4 linked regions of the Homo sapiens genome follow. The protein of the gene in region 1 purifies or fractionates together with the protein of each later gene. This does not show direct contact. Each region holds a gene or a part of one and is shown on either strand. Other genes may lie near its edges.

Region 1 (4,906 bases):
AGTCTCGCTCTGCCGTCGCCCAGACTGGAGTGCAGTGGCACGATCTCTGCTCACTGCAAGCTCCGCCTCCCAGGTTCATGCCATTCTCCTGCCTCAGCCTCCTGAGTAGCTGGGACTACAGGCGCCCGCCACCACACCTGACTAATTTTTTGGATTTTTAGTAGAGAAGGGGTTTCACCATGTTAGCCAGGATGGTCTCGATCTCCTGCCCTCGTGATCCACCCGCCTCTGCCTCCAAAGTGCTGGGATTACAGGCATGAGCCACCGTGCCCAGCAAAGATATTATCTTTTATGTCATTTCTATGATTAGAAGACAAAGTTAATAAAATAAGAAAATGCCTCCAGATACCATTTGTCTTTGGAGTTGCAAATAATGCCCCAAAAAAGCATGGGAGGAGGGAAATAAAAGGTGGAAAGTGGAAAGGATGACAGGGGAAGGAAGAAGAAATAAGTAAGAGATGAATGTGAAGAACTTAAGTCAAAATAGGAAGGAAAAGTGGAAGGAGTAACAGAAAACATGTTTATCAGTTGAAAAAGATGACAAGCTAACACAGCCAGACCACAGTAGCAGAGAAACCAAATAGGAAAAAAAAGTGATTTCAAATATGGAACTAAACCATGGATCAGGAAAAAAGAGCTTTAGTATAACAGATTTTTAAGAGACACTAGAGAAAAGAGGGAAAAGAGTGGTCCTTGTGATGTCGGTTAATATGCATTAAAGTAGATTCGTACTTATGTCAGTTTATATGGTTACAACTGTCTGGGTCCTATTATTTCTAAAGGTCCTAGAAAACACTCAAAACCATAGTGATGCCTTTGAAAAAAGAGACTGAGGGGAGTTTAACTGGAGATTGAAGAGAACCCTCAGAAAAGCAACTATAGGTCCAGCCAAGTCTCATGGAAGCATCACTCTGGGAAATAAAGCGCAATCCCTATTTAGGACTTGTTTTCTAGCTCTGAAATTCTAGTTTATCTAGGACAGGGATTCTCAACCCTCCTTTAAGCAGCAGAACCCTTTCTTTAAATGAAGTGGAACTCACAGATAACATAAGATCCTAAGAGAGCTGCTGCTGTTCGAATGAGGTTGGGAGCCCAGGAGCTGTGGCCAGCCCACTTCTAGGCCTTTCTCTGCAGCCTGAAGCAGTTCCTGAGGCACTTCCTCCTCAGACCCTAGAAAACAGTTTGGGGACCACTGGTCCAGGAAGTGGCAGGGAAACCTGTTCTGTACTGCTGCTCTCTGGAAACAATCATAAGGTACAGAATGTTTGCTGCTATACAGTGACTGGAAAGATGCATGCAACACGGTGCCCAAGGTAAGACCAGTTTTAGGAAAAAATACAAATAATGGAGTTCATGTAACAAAGTCCCCCTTCCTTTTCCCATTAAGGCCATAGGAGAGTTTAACCAAGTTTACAGTAAATCTTCTGCCCCCATAGAAATGCTAAAAATTTGGAGAAAGACCTCAGAGACCACTAAACGTGATGCTACCGACTACAACTGCTTACCAAAGAAAATCACGTCTCATAAAAGACAAGTTGTTTTAATCCTCAATTGTTCATATATTACAGTAAGAAAATAAGCAAATCTGAACTTGCTGAAGTAGCTGTACAAAATTTAACACAGAAACCAGTCACAGCAGAAAGAGGCTACTGGCAGCATGGCTGAGGGGAGGCGAATTTCAAATACTGATGCTGACTTGCCACAGGACCAAAAGTAAGTCACAAAATAGTTATTTTGCTTAAATTTTCCCAGAGCGTGCTTCCCAAGCCATCTCCTTGGGATGTGAGGAATCTTGACATGATAATTATAAAATTCTAGAACAAGAGGTCACCTGAGCTCAGAGCTCACAAGTTCATCTGACTGGTCTACATTTATAGGCACTAGAGGCTGGGCATGGTGGCTCACGTCTGTAATCCCAGCATTTTGGGAGGCCGAGGTGGGAGGATCTCTTGAAACCAGGTGTTTGAGACCAGCTGGGCAACATGGTGAAACCCCGTCTCTATAAAAAATACAAAAATTAGCCAGGCACGGTGGCATGAGCCTCTAGTCCCAGCTACCTGGGAGACTGAGGCAGGAGGACTGCCTGAGCCTGAGGAGGTCAAGGCTGCAGTGAGCCATGATTGTGACACTGCACTCCAGCCTAGGCAACAGAGCGAGACCCTGTCTCCAAAAAAGAAAGAAAGAAGGCACTAGAGAAAGAGGGGAAGCATTGTCCTATTTCGAAAGAACATTAGCAACAGGGGCTCTACAAAAAGATTAACACTGTCAAAAAATAAATCAAAATCCATCAAGCCCAGTGTTTATCAACCAGGATTGATTTTGCCCTCTAGGGGGCAATGGGAGTAGACAGGAGAGTTTCCAGTAATCACAAGGACCTGGGGGTACTACTGCCATTTAGTGGGCAAGGCCAGAAAAGTTAGACTTCCTGCAGTGTGGGGGGCAGTCTCGCACAATGAAAAACAGTATCACCTAAAATACTGAGCCCAATACAAAGTTTCCCATAAACACAAACCATGAAGAGATATGACCCTCTAATTTGGGTTTAACTTTAGTGTTTAATAACCATCCTAGGTTCTCTGATCACAATCTAAGTTCTCTCTAGACTTAAGAGTCTACGGAGAGATGCACCTCTTCCTTATAAAATAAACTCTGGAACATCTACTAAGTCTTTCCTTACTTGGCCTTCTCCTTTCCAAAATAAAGGAAGTTTGATAAGTATCCTAAGGTAATACAAGACAGTACTACAGTAATGATTTCTGTGAGAGATGGCCACCTGTAGTAATTATCTCCCACTGCCATGACCGGAAAGTACTGATGGGCCCTAAAATTTAGTTTTTAGCTGAGAATGGGACACAAGGCAAGAAGGACTGAAAGCAGGGTGGGTATCAGAAGGAAAAAGCAGAAGAGTTTTAAGTAAGGGAAGCCAAAAGGGGTTTATTAACTGCATTGCCTCTTTGATCAAACTGTGAAATTCTAGAGCACGGAATTTTAACCAGGGTCTTATGGGTAGAGGAAAGGGGAAATAAAAGTTTGAAGCCCCCAAAATCATACACAAAATGTTGAATGTAAGCACTTTTTGAAGAGAGGATTCCTACCTTTATCACTTTCAAAGAGCTACAGGACCCCAGAAAGGATAAGAATCTCTGCTACAGTGACTCATCTGAATTCCAAAGGAAGAATAAATGGTATAGAACAGAAATTCAATATAACCAATTTAAGGAACAAAATGTCAGACCAAGTTGTATCAACTCAACCACCCATATAAAAATAACAACTGTTTGCCAAAGCAAACGTATGGCAATTTCACATAAACAATGAAGAAAATCAACTGAGAAATCTTGAGAAATGGCTTGCGGTGCCTGAAGACTTAGGACCAGATGATACACTGGGGATCCAGTCAGTCAGTAGAAACTGCTCCAAACCTCAAGGGAAAAGAAAAGTGGGCCCAACCAGTGGTTTGAGTGGTCCAATGAGGCTTCTTAACCATTGAGCCTGTTGCTTTTCTCTTTGGCATTTTAGATTCTAGGTCCTTAGGAATGCTTGAAAACATGGCCAAGAAAGGATTGAAAAAAAAAAAAAACAAAAAAAACTCCTAAAGCTTTTTCTATGGATTTATATGAGGGAACCACTCTGGGGACAGAGAATTCCACAATAAGTTCATAAAATTCTGGTGAACCTAGACATTATTTAAGAACAGATGCAGGACTCTTCACTCAAAATAAGCCATCATCCACTGTTGGGCTGACTAATTATATCTCCCAAAAAAAATTTGCCACTGCGAAGTATGTTTAAGGCAAAGATCTTACTTTTCAGCCTAAGGGCGTAAAGCCCTCAGCTTCAGGGCTTGGTTCCAGGAGTCTTGCTACTTTGTGGTCCAGAACCAGCAGCATTCAGCATCACTGGCATCGTCTAAGAGCTTGTTAAAAATGCAGACTCTCCAGGTGCAGTGGCTCCCACCCATAATCCCAGCACTTTGGGAGGCAAAGGTGGATGGATCACTTGAGGTCAGTTAGAGACCAGCCTGGCCAACATAGAAACCTCGTCTCTACTAAAAATACAAAAATTAGACAGGTGTGGTGGTGCACACCTGTAATCCCAGCTACTTGGGAGGCTGAGGCATGAGAATTACTTAAACCCGGGAGGCGGAGGCTGCAGTGAGCCCAGATTGCCACTGCACTCCAGTCTGGGAAACAGAGCAGGACTGTCTTTAAAAAAAAAAAAAAAAAAAAAAAAAAAAAAAAAAAAGCAGACTCTCAGACCTAGCCCCTGATGTACTAACTCATAATCTGCATTTTAACAAGACCCCCAGGTGATTCCTATGTACATCAAAGCCAAGAAGCACTACCGTAAGTAACTCCCGCTATGAATAAACATACTAATGAGGCTGTCACGTTATGGTGAATTTAAAGGGCAGAACCACAGAAAGATAGAACGCTGGACCAACTGCCAAGGTTCTGACTAGTAGAAGTATTGTAGCTCAGGTAGTCAACATGCTGAACAAGATAACTTTTCTTTTTGTGTTTTTCCTTTTGTAAACCTAAGGATAAAGAAAAAAATAAATGTCCAAGATTCACTTACCCATTGATAGATGTTCTAGACATAAACAGGCTAAAAACAGATGACACAAAAGAATGATATAATTGGATAAATAGCCAGCCCGATTTCTCAATGCTGTTGTTTAAGAAGATCTGTGTTCCTTGATCAAGGTAACTCTGAACAAAGACAGCCTGGAGTGATTCGCATAATTTCTCTCTGTTGCACACATACCACTAAAAAAAAAAAAAAAAAAAGAACAAAAATTAAAACACACAACCGAAGTGTCACCTAAGAAATCCAAAAACAAAAAACCAGAAGACTAAATCACATCTAAGATTTCCAAATATTACCATCTCATGATACTCTGAGA
Region 2 (3,500 bases), on another chromosome or scaffold:
GTGTCTGTGGCTTCTCCAGTTGCATGGTGCAAGCCGTCTGTGGATCAGATTCAGATTGTGGGGTCTGAAGGATGGTGGCCCTCTTCTCACAGCTCTACTAGACAGTGCCCCAGTGGGGATTCTGTGTGGGGGCTCCAACCCCACATTTCCCTGCTGCAGTGCCCTAGCAGAGGTCTTCCATGAGGGCTCTGCCCTTGCAGCAACTTCTGAATGGACACCCAGGTGTTTCTGTACATTTTCTGAAGTCTAGGCAGAGGTTCTCAAACCACAGTTCTTGACTTCTGTGCACCCGCAGGCCCAACACCACGTGTAAGCTGTCAAGGCTTGGGGCTTGCACCCTCTGAAGCAACAGCCTGAGCTGTATGTTGGCCCCTTTTAGCCGTGGCTGGGACATAGGGCACCATATGCAGTCCCGAGGCTGCATAGAGCAGGGGGTCTTAGGCTTGGCCCAGGAAATCACTTTTCCCTCCTAGGCTTATGATGGAAGGGGCTGCCATGAAGGTCTCTGACATGCCTTGGAGACATTTTCCCCATTGTCTTGGTGATTTACATTTGGCTCCTCATTACTTATGCAAATTTCTGCAGCTGGCTGGAATTTCTTCCCAGAAAATGTTTTTCTTTTCTGTCGCATCATCAGGCTGCAAATTTTCCAAATTTTTTATGCTCTGCTTCCTCTTGAATGCTTTGCCCCTTAGAAGTTTCTTCTGCCAGATACCCTAAATTATCTCTCTCAAGTTCAAAGTTCCACAGATCTCTGGGGCAGGGGCAAAATGCCACCAAACTCTTTGCATAGCAAGAGTGACCTTTACTCCATTTCCCAAAAAGTTCCTCATCTCCATCTGAGACCACCTCAGCCTGGACTTCATTGTTTATATCACTGTCAGCATTTTGGTCAATGTCATTCAACAAATTTCTAGGAAGTTCCCAAATTTCCCACATTTTCCTGTCTTCTTCTGAGCCCTCAAAACTGTTCCAACCTCTACCTGTTACCCAGTTCCAAAGTTGCTTTCACACTTGTGGATATCTTTACAGCAACCCTCCACTCTCTGCTGTACTCATTTACTGTATTACTCAGTTTTCATGCTGCTAATAAAGACATACCTGAGACAGGGTAATTTATAAAGGAAAGAGGTTTAATTGATTCTCAGTTCAGTATGGGTGGGGAGGCCTCAGGAAACTTACAATCATGGTGGAAGGGGAAGCAAATATGTCCTTCACATGGTAGCAGGGAGAAGAAGAGTGAGTGCCCAGAGCAGGGGAAGCCCCTTATAAAACCATCAGATCTCATGAGAACTAACTCACTATCATGAGAACAGGATGGGGGAAACCACCCCCATGATTCAGTTATCTCCACCTGGTCTCTCCCACGACACGTGAGGGTTATGGGAACTACAACTCAAGATGAGATTTGGGTGGGCACACGGCCAAATTATATCATATGATCATGGAGACTGATAAGCCCAAATTTGCAGTGTGGGCTTGCAGGCTGCAGACCCAGGAGAGCCGATGGTACAGGTGAAGCCCAGGTCATCTGCTGCAGAATCCCTCTTGCTTGGGGAGGCTGGTCTTTTTGTTGAATTAGGCTCACCTACATTATGGAGGCAAACTGCTTATTCAAAATTCACCAATTTAAATGTTAATCTCATCCCAAAACACCCTTCAAATTGACACGTAAAATTAACCATCATACCTGTTTTGGAAAATGATATGGCATTAGCTAGTTAAAAACCCCAAATCCTATGATCCAATAATTCTACTCTGTTTGGTATCCAAGAGTTCTCTCATTATAGGGAAAATTCCTGACAATATTTATAGCAACAGTGATTGCAATAGCAAAAAATTGGTAACAACCCAAATACCCATCAACAGTAGAACCGAAAAGCACACTGAGGTCTATTCACACATTAGGATACTCTACATCACTAAAATGAGTGAATTATCACTTGCTCACCGACATGGATGAAGCTCATGAACTTTGTGTTGAAAGAAAAGAGCAAGTTACCAAAAAAAATAGGTAAACTAGGGTTCCTTTTCTTTAAAGGTTTTAGAAATATGCATAATTAAACAATACGTTATTTATAGATACAAACGTGGTAAAACTATAAAGAAAAGCAAAGTTCAGAAACATGGTAGGTGGGGGATAGAATAGAATCAGGAAGGGCTGAAAGGGTCTTTAAGGCTCATAGTCAGGGTGTTTTCCTTATACAGGTGTTTTATTTTGCATTTGTCTCAAAATGTTTTAGAAGATTTCTTTCAAATCTACTGATTTCTTTTTCTTTTCCTTTTTTGAGACAGAGTCTCACTCTGTTGCCCAGGCTGGAGTGCAGTGGCATGATCTCAGCTCATTGCAACCTCTGCCTCCTGGGTTCAAGTGGTTCTCCTGCCTCAGCCTCCTGAGTAGCTGGGATTACAGGCCTGCATCATCACACCCAGCTAATTTTTGTATTTTTGTAGAGATGGGGGTTTTGCCATGTTGGCCAGGCTGATCTCAAACTCCTGACCTCAGGTGATCCACCCCACCTTGGCCTCCCAAAGTGCTGGAATTACAGGCATAGGCCACCTTGCCTGGCCAAATCTACTGATTTCTAATGGTGAAAAGAGATGTGATTGCAATTTTTGAGCAGTTGAAAGCTCTAAGGTAAGGATGAAATCTTCATTCTGATATGGCCTGGGGGCCAGGTAGAGGTAAGTTTCAGCAATGGTTTCAAATTTTTATGATCCAAGGACTAAAAAATGATGATTTTAGTGAAAAAGATGTGAAATTAAGAGACCAACTTGGCTAGCAAGAGTGGAATTAAGTCTGTTTCAGGTGTATTAAATTGTAAAGTAGCCTTTGACCAGCTGACAATTGAAATTATGGAACAACAAACCAGGATTGAAAATATCCAATTTGAAGTCATCTGAATGATCATCCAGCACATGTGGATGGATGGGGTTAACTAAGAAAGTACCAATGGATGGGGGCAGAAGTCTAAGGTCATAGCTTGTGGCTTGGAGGATGGTCACATTGTAGTGTGTTAAAGAAGGTGTTCATGTTAAAGAATGTAGAGGGCATAGAGAAAAGAGGGGGAGAGTTGGGAGGGAGAGGAAAGTGAACAGGTGAATTATTGATGTGAGAGCAGAAGACACATAGAACTCATATTTATAGTAGAGGGTTAGATTTTCTTGCTCCACACATGCAGGTACTTTGTGTTGGCTGTATTGTATGTTTGCTGACTCTGTGATCTCCCATATTCCAGTCCATTTATCTCAAACTGGGCACAGAGATGTTCCTCACTGTTTCCCTTTAAGAGTCTCATTCTCTCCCAGGTGGGATGAGGCTCCTTATATGCCATCCATGCTCATTCTTAGAAGGCTCTTATCTCTACACCCTTCAGGGACAAGTGTTCTCTGTCCAGGTTCCCAGCAGCTGACATAGCAGCCAAAGTTTTCTTTCATTCTTGTATATATCTGCTGGTTAGTGGCACTAAAGAGATTCCTTTAATATTAAGGGCTCCAGA
Region 3 (3,500 bases), on another chromosome or scaffold:
TAGGAAGAAGACAAGTGGTTGGTGGTGAATGCTGGCAGGGGCTGGTGAAGTCTCCCCAGGAGGGAGACAGAATCCATGTCTCTTTAGAGGCCCTTCAGGATCAGCCCTTTTATACCAGATCTGCTGGTTTGAGAGCCCAGAGCCTCAGAGGTTAGATCTGAGGCCCAAGGTTTTGGCCAGGATTAGAGAGTAGCCTGTGAGGCAGAGGGCAACTGGCAGAGCTGTTGGTGTAAGAGGGTGCACGCCTGAAGCTTTGGGGTGTAAAGGGTAGACCAGAGGCAGGACAGTCAAGGAGTTATGGTCTGGAGTGGCAGCTGGCTGGGAATTGGGGAGTGTTTCAGATCCTTTCAAGTAATGTGGTCTGGTAGAGCTTGGAGGATTGGTGGGACCATGCCTTTTTCTCACTGGTTTGTGTCCTGGTTCCTTCCCAGAGCCTGGCAGAGAGCAGGTGTGTGATACACGTCGTCAGGTGACTGACCGAGGAATTCAGGGCAAACAGATCATCTCAATTTGCCTTGCTGATGTGCCAGCTGGGATTACGCTGATGGATGAAGCTCTTCAGAGCTATGGGCAATATCTACATATTTGATTGTCAAGAAACTTCGTGTGGAAATAGCTTCAAACTTACACAAATTGCAAGAATAAAAAATAGTATAAGGATATTCGTACACACTCTCTTTACTCAGATTCACCTGTTAATATTTTGCTCCATTTGCTCTCTATGTGTGCAGAGTATGTTTTTGTTCTGAACCATTTGAGAAGTTGCATCTATCCTGGTCCTCTACTTCTCAATACTTCAGTGTGTATTACCTAAGAATTGGAATTAATCAGTTATCACTGATACTTTAACCTACTGTCCATATTCCACCTTTGTCATTTTACCCAATAACGTCTTTTTAAAAAAAGTTTTTTGAGGTTTCATTGACATACAATTGATATCAATATGTGCAAAGAACTGCATATAAAGTGTACAATTTGATAAGTTTTGACATATATGTGTGTGTGTGTATATATATATATATATATATACCTGTAAAAGTATCACCACAATCAAGATAATAAACATATCCACCCTTCTAGAAGCTTCCTAATGCCCCTGTGTAGTAACTACCCTACTGCCCTTCTCTGCCTCCATCCCCAGGCAACAACTGATCTGCTTTCTGTAATATAGATTAGTTTCTATTTTCGGCAGTTTTATGTCAATGGAATCACAGTGTATGTGCTCTTTTTTGTTTTTCCCAAAAAGACCCATATTGTGTAATTATTTGGAGATTGTGTTGTGTATGTCAGTGGTTTATTCAGTTTTATTGCTGAATATTATTCCATTCTATGAGTAAACCACAATTTGTTTATCTGTATTTCCCTGTTGATGGGCCTTTGGGTTATTTCCAGTTTTGAGTGATTATGAATAAAGTTACCATCAACACTCCTGTGTAGGTTTTTGTAGGGACATGGCTGAAAGTAGAAAGAAATGGGGCATGCAGGAGAGACTGGGCTTGGTTATAACAGCCTGTTATCCCTGGGGAACTAGCTCACTCACCAGAGGACGTTAGGAAGGATCTGCCCCTGCCCCCCTTGTGATCCAAACACCTACCACTAGACCCCACCTCCGGCAGCACCACCACACAGGGGATCAAATCCCAACATGTGTTTCAGAGAACAAACCATATTCAAGCTATAGCATAGCTACGTAATTATTATAACACTATTAATAAGACCATCTTTGCCTTGGGAATTTTAAGTAGCACCTTTATTACATATTAGATTTTTTTGTGTAATGAGTCTGTTTCTGGAGCTTAAATTCTATTTCACTGGATGGTCTGTTTATTTATGTACCAGTACCACGCAGTTGTAATTATGGAGGTTTTGTAGTATGCCATATATATATATATATAATAAAAAAAAATTTTTTTGAGACAGAGTCTCACTCTCTTGCCCAGGCTGGAGTGCAATGGCACAATCCAATCACAGCTCACTACAGCCTCAGCCTCCCAGACTCAGGTGATCCCATCTCAGCCTCCTGAGTAGCTGGGACCACAGGTGCGTGCCACCATGCCCAGCTTTTTTTTTTTTTTTTTTTAATTGTTACTTGTAGAGACAGGGTCTCCGTGTGCTGCCCAGGCTATTCTTGAACTCCTGGGCTCAAGTGATCCTCCTGTATTGGCCTCCCAAAGTGCTGGGATTGCAGGTAGGAGCTACTGCATCTGGCCAGTATGCAGTATTTTCATATCTGGTAGGGCTGAGTCCCTCCTCACAGCTTATTTTTATTGTTTTCCTAGTTTTTCATGTGAACTTTACTGTCAGTTCGTCTAGCTCCATAAAAAGGTATTTTTATTGGGATTTTTGATGATGCTGAAATGTCCTGACCAAGAACAAGGGATATTCAGATGTTCTTTTGTGTCTTTCAGGAATGATAGTTTTGTTCACATAAGTTTTGAATGTTTAAGTTTATTTAAGTTTATTTCTAAATATTTTCTCATTTCTCTGGCTTTTGTAAGTAGGGTTTTCTCATCCATGTTTTCTTCTCATGAGTTATTTGTGGATATGAAGGCTATCCATTAGTATATGTTGATTTTTATATTACACTTCCTTGCTCAGTTCATTATTGATTCTTTTTGAGTTTTCCAGGCATATTCTCACAAGTAAAGATAATAGAAATAGTTTGCTTCCTTTCCACTTCTGCTTTGAATTTTTTTTTCTTGGTTCATTTGCATTGGCTGCTTCCTCCAGCAAAATGTTAAATAACCCTGGAGATGATGGGCAACTTCGTTTTGCTCCTGACATTCGTGGGGTGCCTCTGGTGCTTCCCTGTTGGTAAGGGGTTAACTGTAGCCCTGAGGTGGGACATTTGATTTTAAAAATCAGTCATCTTGGGGCGCTTAGGTTAGAGGAATGGTAGGCAGATGCTGTCACTCCTTGCCCCTCCCCTCCTCCTTCCCACCTGGAGGGGAAATGAAATCTGACAGGTAGAAAGAGGGGAGTTGGGGTTCTTTTTCTCTCTCCCTCCACCAGCATCACTCTCTGCCTCTCCCTCAAAAATACGTTCCTGGGTCAGGATATATGTTGACTCCCTAGAGAGCTCTGGAGTCAACCTCCTGGCCTTCCTCCACCCTCACTCTTGGCCTTTTCCTGCCCCCATTTCCTCTACCTGTGGGGCATGGAGCCACGAGCCTTTGTGTGACGGTTTGCTTTCTCTCTCCTGTCTTTAGGTGCATGGCTGCCTCCTAATCCCATAGTCCAGAGGAGGCATCCCTAGGACTGCGGGCAAGGGAGCCGGGCAAGCCCAGGGCAGCCTTGAACCGTCCCCTGGCCTGCCCTCCCCGGTGGGGGCCAGGATGCTGAAGAAGCAGTCTGCAGGGCTTGTGCTGTGGGGCGCTATCCTCTTTGTGGCCTGGAATGCCCTGCTGCTCCTCTTCTTCTGGACGCGCCCAGCACCTGGCAGGCCACCCTCAGTCAGCGCTCTCGATGGCGACCCCGCCAGCCTCACCCGGGAAGTGATT
Region 4 (4,238 bases), on another chromosome or scaffold:
TCCTTTTGAGATGCAAGACTAACTGTATAGACCAACTTAGCCATTGGGAATGGAGTTATAATGAATTCCGGGGAGCATGCAAAAACTATTCACTTGAGAAATATGGTGAGGAAAGCACCAAGAAAATAACCAACTGACTGGGTGAAGTCGAGGGAAGTCCCGCCTTATAATCAGTGCTTAGGATCCCCATCCCCTATGACCTTTCCCCCAAACTGACACTTTCTCTAAAATGTCCATTCCCGTAGCTAAAACACAGGTAACATTTCCTTGAAATTCAATACAACAAAAGTTCATTAACCAAAACTGAAGGAAATACTGAAATGAGATTGCACCTGTGGGATGATGGTTTTAATCTACATATAAATTTCAATTGTTTTAAAACCCAAATTGATTAACGGTACTACAGTTCCCAAGGAAGGCTTCAGGTAAGATGCTTATCATTCGGGTTTCTGCGTGGGACTAACAGGTTACTAGCAGCTCATGGGCAGCAATGACCCTAGGATGACGCCACGCGTGAGACGGCAAAGGGTGAGGGGTGAGGAGCGAGTCCGGCAGGTCCACTGGAGACTCCGAGCCCAAACCCCGCTCCCCTGAGCCGACCCGACTCGCCTCCTAGGTCTGGGGCGGCAACTAACAGCGCGCCCGGAGCACGTCCACAGGTTCAACCCGAAAAGCACAAGGGTCGGCCGTCCAGCGACCTCTCTTACCAGGGGGTCATAGAGCACCACGGAGCAGGACGTGCCAAAGGCCAGAAGTCCTCTGGGCCCAGAGCTCCAGTTCAGGACTCCCCGCACCCGGTTTGGGCAGCAAAACACGTGAGAAGTCTCCAGCACGGGTGCCACCATGTCGCCAACTGGTCAGCCGCACAAACAAGAGACGCGCACTTCCGCCCTCGGAGCGGAACTACTAGGGTGGTTTCTCCTGAGGCATCACCCAGTCCACGTTTCGCAGCCAGCCGAGGGCCAGACGGAGGCAGCCCCGCCCCCCTGAGACTCTCCGTTCCCACCGCAGGCTGGAACCCCTGTGCAAGGCCGCCGCTTTGCTAGCTCTGCTCTTGGACCGTGGCCCCGCTCCGCGAACGAGCCAGGCCTTTGTCTCAAGAGCGAAATCCGACCCGAGTGGCTCGGGACCCTCCCGAAGGACCCGGGGCTCATGTGCCTGGGGCAGCGTCAGAAACATCTCGCTGCCCCTTACGACCCGGCTCCCAGCAGCAGCCAGGGCTGGCCCCGGGGGCGCTGGCTAGCGAGTAGGGCCTCGAGGAAATGACCCCCAACTGCTTACAATGCGCTAGGGCCGCGCCACGCCCCCGCGGCGTCGGCGAACACACGGAAAAGCGGATCCGTCTGCGGAGCCGGGTTCCGGGGTCGCACTGCGCATGCCCTGCAGTCCTGGGCGAAGGGGGCGGTGGTTCCCCGCGGCGCTGCGCGCGGCGGTAATTAGTGATTGTCTTCCAGCTTCGCGAAGGCTAGGGGCGCGGCTGCCGGGTGGCTGCGCGGCGCTGCCCCCGGACCGAGGGGCAGCCAACCCAATGAAACCACCGCGTGTTCGCGCCTGGTAGAGATTTCTCGAAGACACCAGTGGGCCCGTTCCGAGCCCTCTGGACCGCCCGTGTGGAACCAAACCTGCGCGCGTGGCCGGGCCGTGGGACAACGAGGCCGCGGAGACGTGAGTCTTTCAGGTCCGGGAGCAGGGCGGCTGGGAGGGGAGCTCCTCAGGCCAGACAGGCGTGGCGGGGTAGGGGTGGTTCTGCGGAGAACCGGATCCTGCGGACCGGGCAGGGGGGCTACAGAAAGAGGATGCTGGGGGGAGCCCGCCGCAGGCGCCCACTCACCCTAGAGAGCCGGACTTCTTAAGGTGCTCAGATGGGCTTCGGGGTGCAACGGAGGATTTTTTGAGGAAAAGATCCGTACTTTTCATCCCATATTCGAAGAAGGGACTGACGTGTTTAGAAATAAAAAGCTTTTAGAAGAGAGCTTTGTGCCCTCTTTTCCGTTTTCTGTACTCGCCTTTTTCTCTAAGGCCCTTCCCTTCTGCTTTCCTTTTTCCTCCAGCACACACCAACTTGCAGGAAAGGAGATCCTTCAACGGGTCCACGACCGCGCTCAGCATCCTCCCTGGAGAAAGGCTCGGAGCTGTCCCCTGTGCTAGTCCCCTCCCACCCCGCTCCTCGCCTCTCTCCTGGGAATGATTTCTAAATGTTTATCTTTTACCTAGTAAAAGAATTCCCGAAACTTCAAGCCCCAAAGATTCCTCTTTCAGGAGCCTCGTTCTACGCCGTACCTCCATTTCCCACTGTTCCCTGTATGATACCTCGCACTTGTGCAACACATGAGTTTAACGAGTACTTGTAATATACATTCCTTCATGTGTTTTCCTCCTTCGCCTTGCAAAATAGGTTTTACCGGTATTTTAGATAAGGTAATGAATGCGAGAGCCCTGTCCAAAGAACAGCTGACCGTGGTAGAGCTGGATAGCCCCATGCTCTTGCTTAGTTGTAAACTTGACGTCTGCGTCTTTTGCTGGAGATGTGAGTTTGACCACCATCACCTCCACCGTTGGTGCTGGACATCCTGCTGGATCTGAATTAACTGAATTCTGGCTCTGCTTAACTGAATTCTGCTTTTCAAGCTCCAACTCAATTGCTTCCTCCTCTTTGGGGCACAGGCCTTTGGTTCCAAACACTACTGTGGATGATTAACAGCCTGTGATTAAATGTTGACTGGTTTGTAGTAACACAAGGATGCTACAGTGAGTTTTTCATGAAGTTCAGTTTACTTTAAGAATTCTATGTATGGACATAATGTGTCTGATTCATTGTCAAGTCGGAAAAAAGATTCAATGTGTATTTAAAGTATACACTTATTTGAGGCTGGGCGTAGTGGTCACGCCTGTAATCCCAGCACTTTGGGAATTGGAGGTGGAGGATCTCTTGAGGCCAGGAGTTCAAGACCAACCCGGACAACATAGTGAGACCTCGTCTCTAGAAAAAAAAAAAAAAAACTTTAAAAAAAAAATTAAGTATACATGTATTTGAGTATGCATAGAAAATATCCTGAGGGATACACTGGCAAAATTGAGCACCTTTGAGGATTGTGATTGGGGAAAGGGGTCTTAAATGGGCTTGTATGTAAGGAGAGTGTATTAGTTTAAAATTTTTTAAATATGTGAATTCTGAGATTATTATTTCTATTTTTTGGTGTTTGAAGGTTATTTTATGAAATGATGGTGATGATCAAGGTAGCTAGATTTCATTTCGTTCTTTTTTTTTTTTGAGACAGGGTTTCACAATGTTGCCCAGGCTGGTCACAAACTCCTGGCCTCAGGTGATCTGCCTGCCTCAGCCTCCCAAAGTGCTGGGATTATAGGCATGAGCCACCACACCCAGCCTAGATTTAATTATGAATCATTGGCCTCAATGATTCAAATAATCGTTCAAATAAATTCTCAACTTCAGTAAGCAGTTGATGGCTGTGGCCACATGGATCTCCCTTGTCTCTGAATTACTATTGCTTTTACAGTGCTAATGGCAGTCTCTTAGCACTCAGCTCTTCTCCAGTTGTTTCATGTGTTTTAGGAATGCAAGGGTAGAGCCTAGGACTCTAGTTCTTTCCATCTTCACAGTACCTAGCGTCACACTGGTCACACCACATGATGCTCTGGCAACTTTGATTATTTGATTACACATTAATTTTCAGTATGAGGTTTCTTAATTCAATTTGTTTTAGAAGTGAGTCAAGAATTTTTTTTTCCTGTCTTTTCTAGGAAGGCGCAATGGCGAGGAAGTTATCTGTAATCTTGATCCTGACCTTTGCCCTCTCTGTCACAAATCCCCTTCATGAACTAAAAGCAGCTGCTTTCCCCCAGACCACTGAGAAAATTAGTCCGAATTGGGAATCTGGCATTAATGTTGACTTGGCAATTTCCACACGGCAATATCATCTACAACAGCTTTTCTACCGCTATGGAGAAAATAATTCTTTGTCAGTTGAAGGGTTCAGAAAATTACTTCAAAATATAGGCATAGATAAGATTAAAAGAATCCATATACACCATGACCACGACCATCACTCAGACCACGAGCATCACTCAGACCATGAGCGTCACTCAGACCATGAGCATCACTCAGAGCACGAGCATCACTCTGACCATGATCATCACTCTCACCATAATCATGCTGCTTCTGGTAAAAATAAGCGAAAAGCTCTTTGCCCAGACCATGACTCAGATAGTTCAGGTAA

Evidence for each region. Proteins that work in one complex are often made in the same cells at the same time.
Region 2: the proteins of METTL9 (region 1) and CD226 purify together in Homo sapiens (co-immunoprecipitation; one large-scale study listed by IntAct). This does not show direct contact.
Region 3: the proteins of METTL9 (region 1) and MGAT1 purify together in Homo sapiens (co-immunoprecipitation; one large-scale study listed by IntAct). This does not show direct contact.
Region 4: the proteins of METTL9 (region 1) and SLC39A6 purify together in Homo sapiens (co-immunoprecipitation; one large-scale study listed by IntAct). This does not show direct contact.

The regions. Positions count from the first base shown.
Region 1 is NC_000016.10:21,612,508-21,617,413, reverse strand, and holds part of METTL9 (protein-L-histidine N-pros-methyltransferase isoform 1 precursor), read right to left. Parts: intron 4,770-4,906; coding exon 4,579-4,769; intron 1-4,578. UniProt on the Homo sapiens protein: Protein-histidine N-methyltransferase that specifically catalyzes 1-methylhistidine (pros-methylhistidine) methylation of target proteins.
Region 2 is NC_000018.10:69,937,874-69,941,373, reverse strand, and holds part of CD226 (CD226 antigen isoform a precursor), read left to right. Parts: intron 1-3,500.
Region 3 is NC_000005.10:180,792,807-180,796,306, reverse strand, and holds part of MGAT1 (alpha-1,3-mannosyl-glycoprotein 2-beta-N-acetylglucosaminyltransferase), read left to right. Parts: intron 1-431; exon of another isoform or gene 432-1,426; intron 1,427-1,940; exon of another isoform or gene 1,941-2,040; intron 2,041-3,209; 5' UTR 3,210-3,335; coding exon 3,336-3,500. UniProt on the Homo sapiens protein: Initiates complex N-linked carbohydrate formation. Essential for the conversion of high-mannose to hybrid and complex N-glycans.
Region 4 is NC_000018.10:36,126,541-36,130,778, reverse strand, and holds the start of SLC39A6 (zinc transporter ZIP6 isoform 1 precursor), read left to right. Parts: upstream 1-1,438; 5' UTR 1,439-1,665; intron 1,666-3,762; 5' UTR 3,763-3,771; coding exon 3,772-4,238. Other genes in the region: ELP2 (elongator complex protein 2), read right to left, coding at 708-845. UniProt on the Homo sapiens protein: Zinc-influx transporter which plays a role in zinc homeostasis and in the induction of epithelial-to-mesenchymal transition (EMT).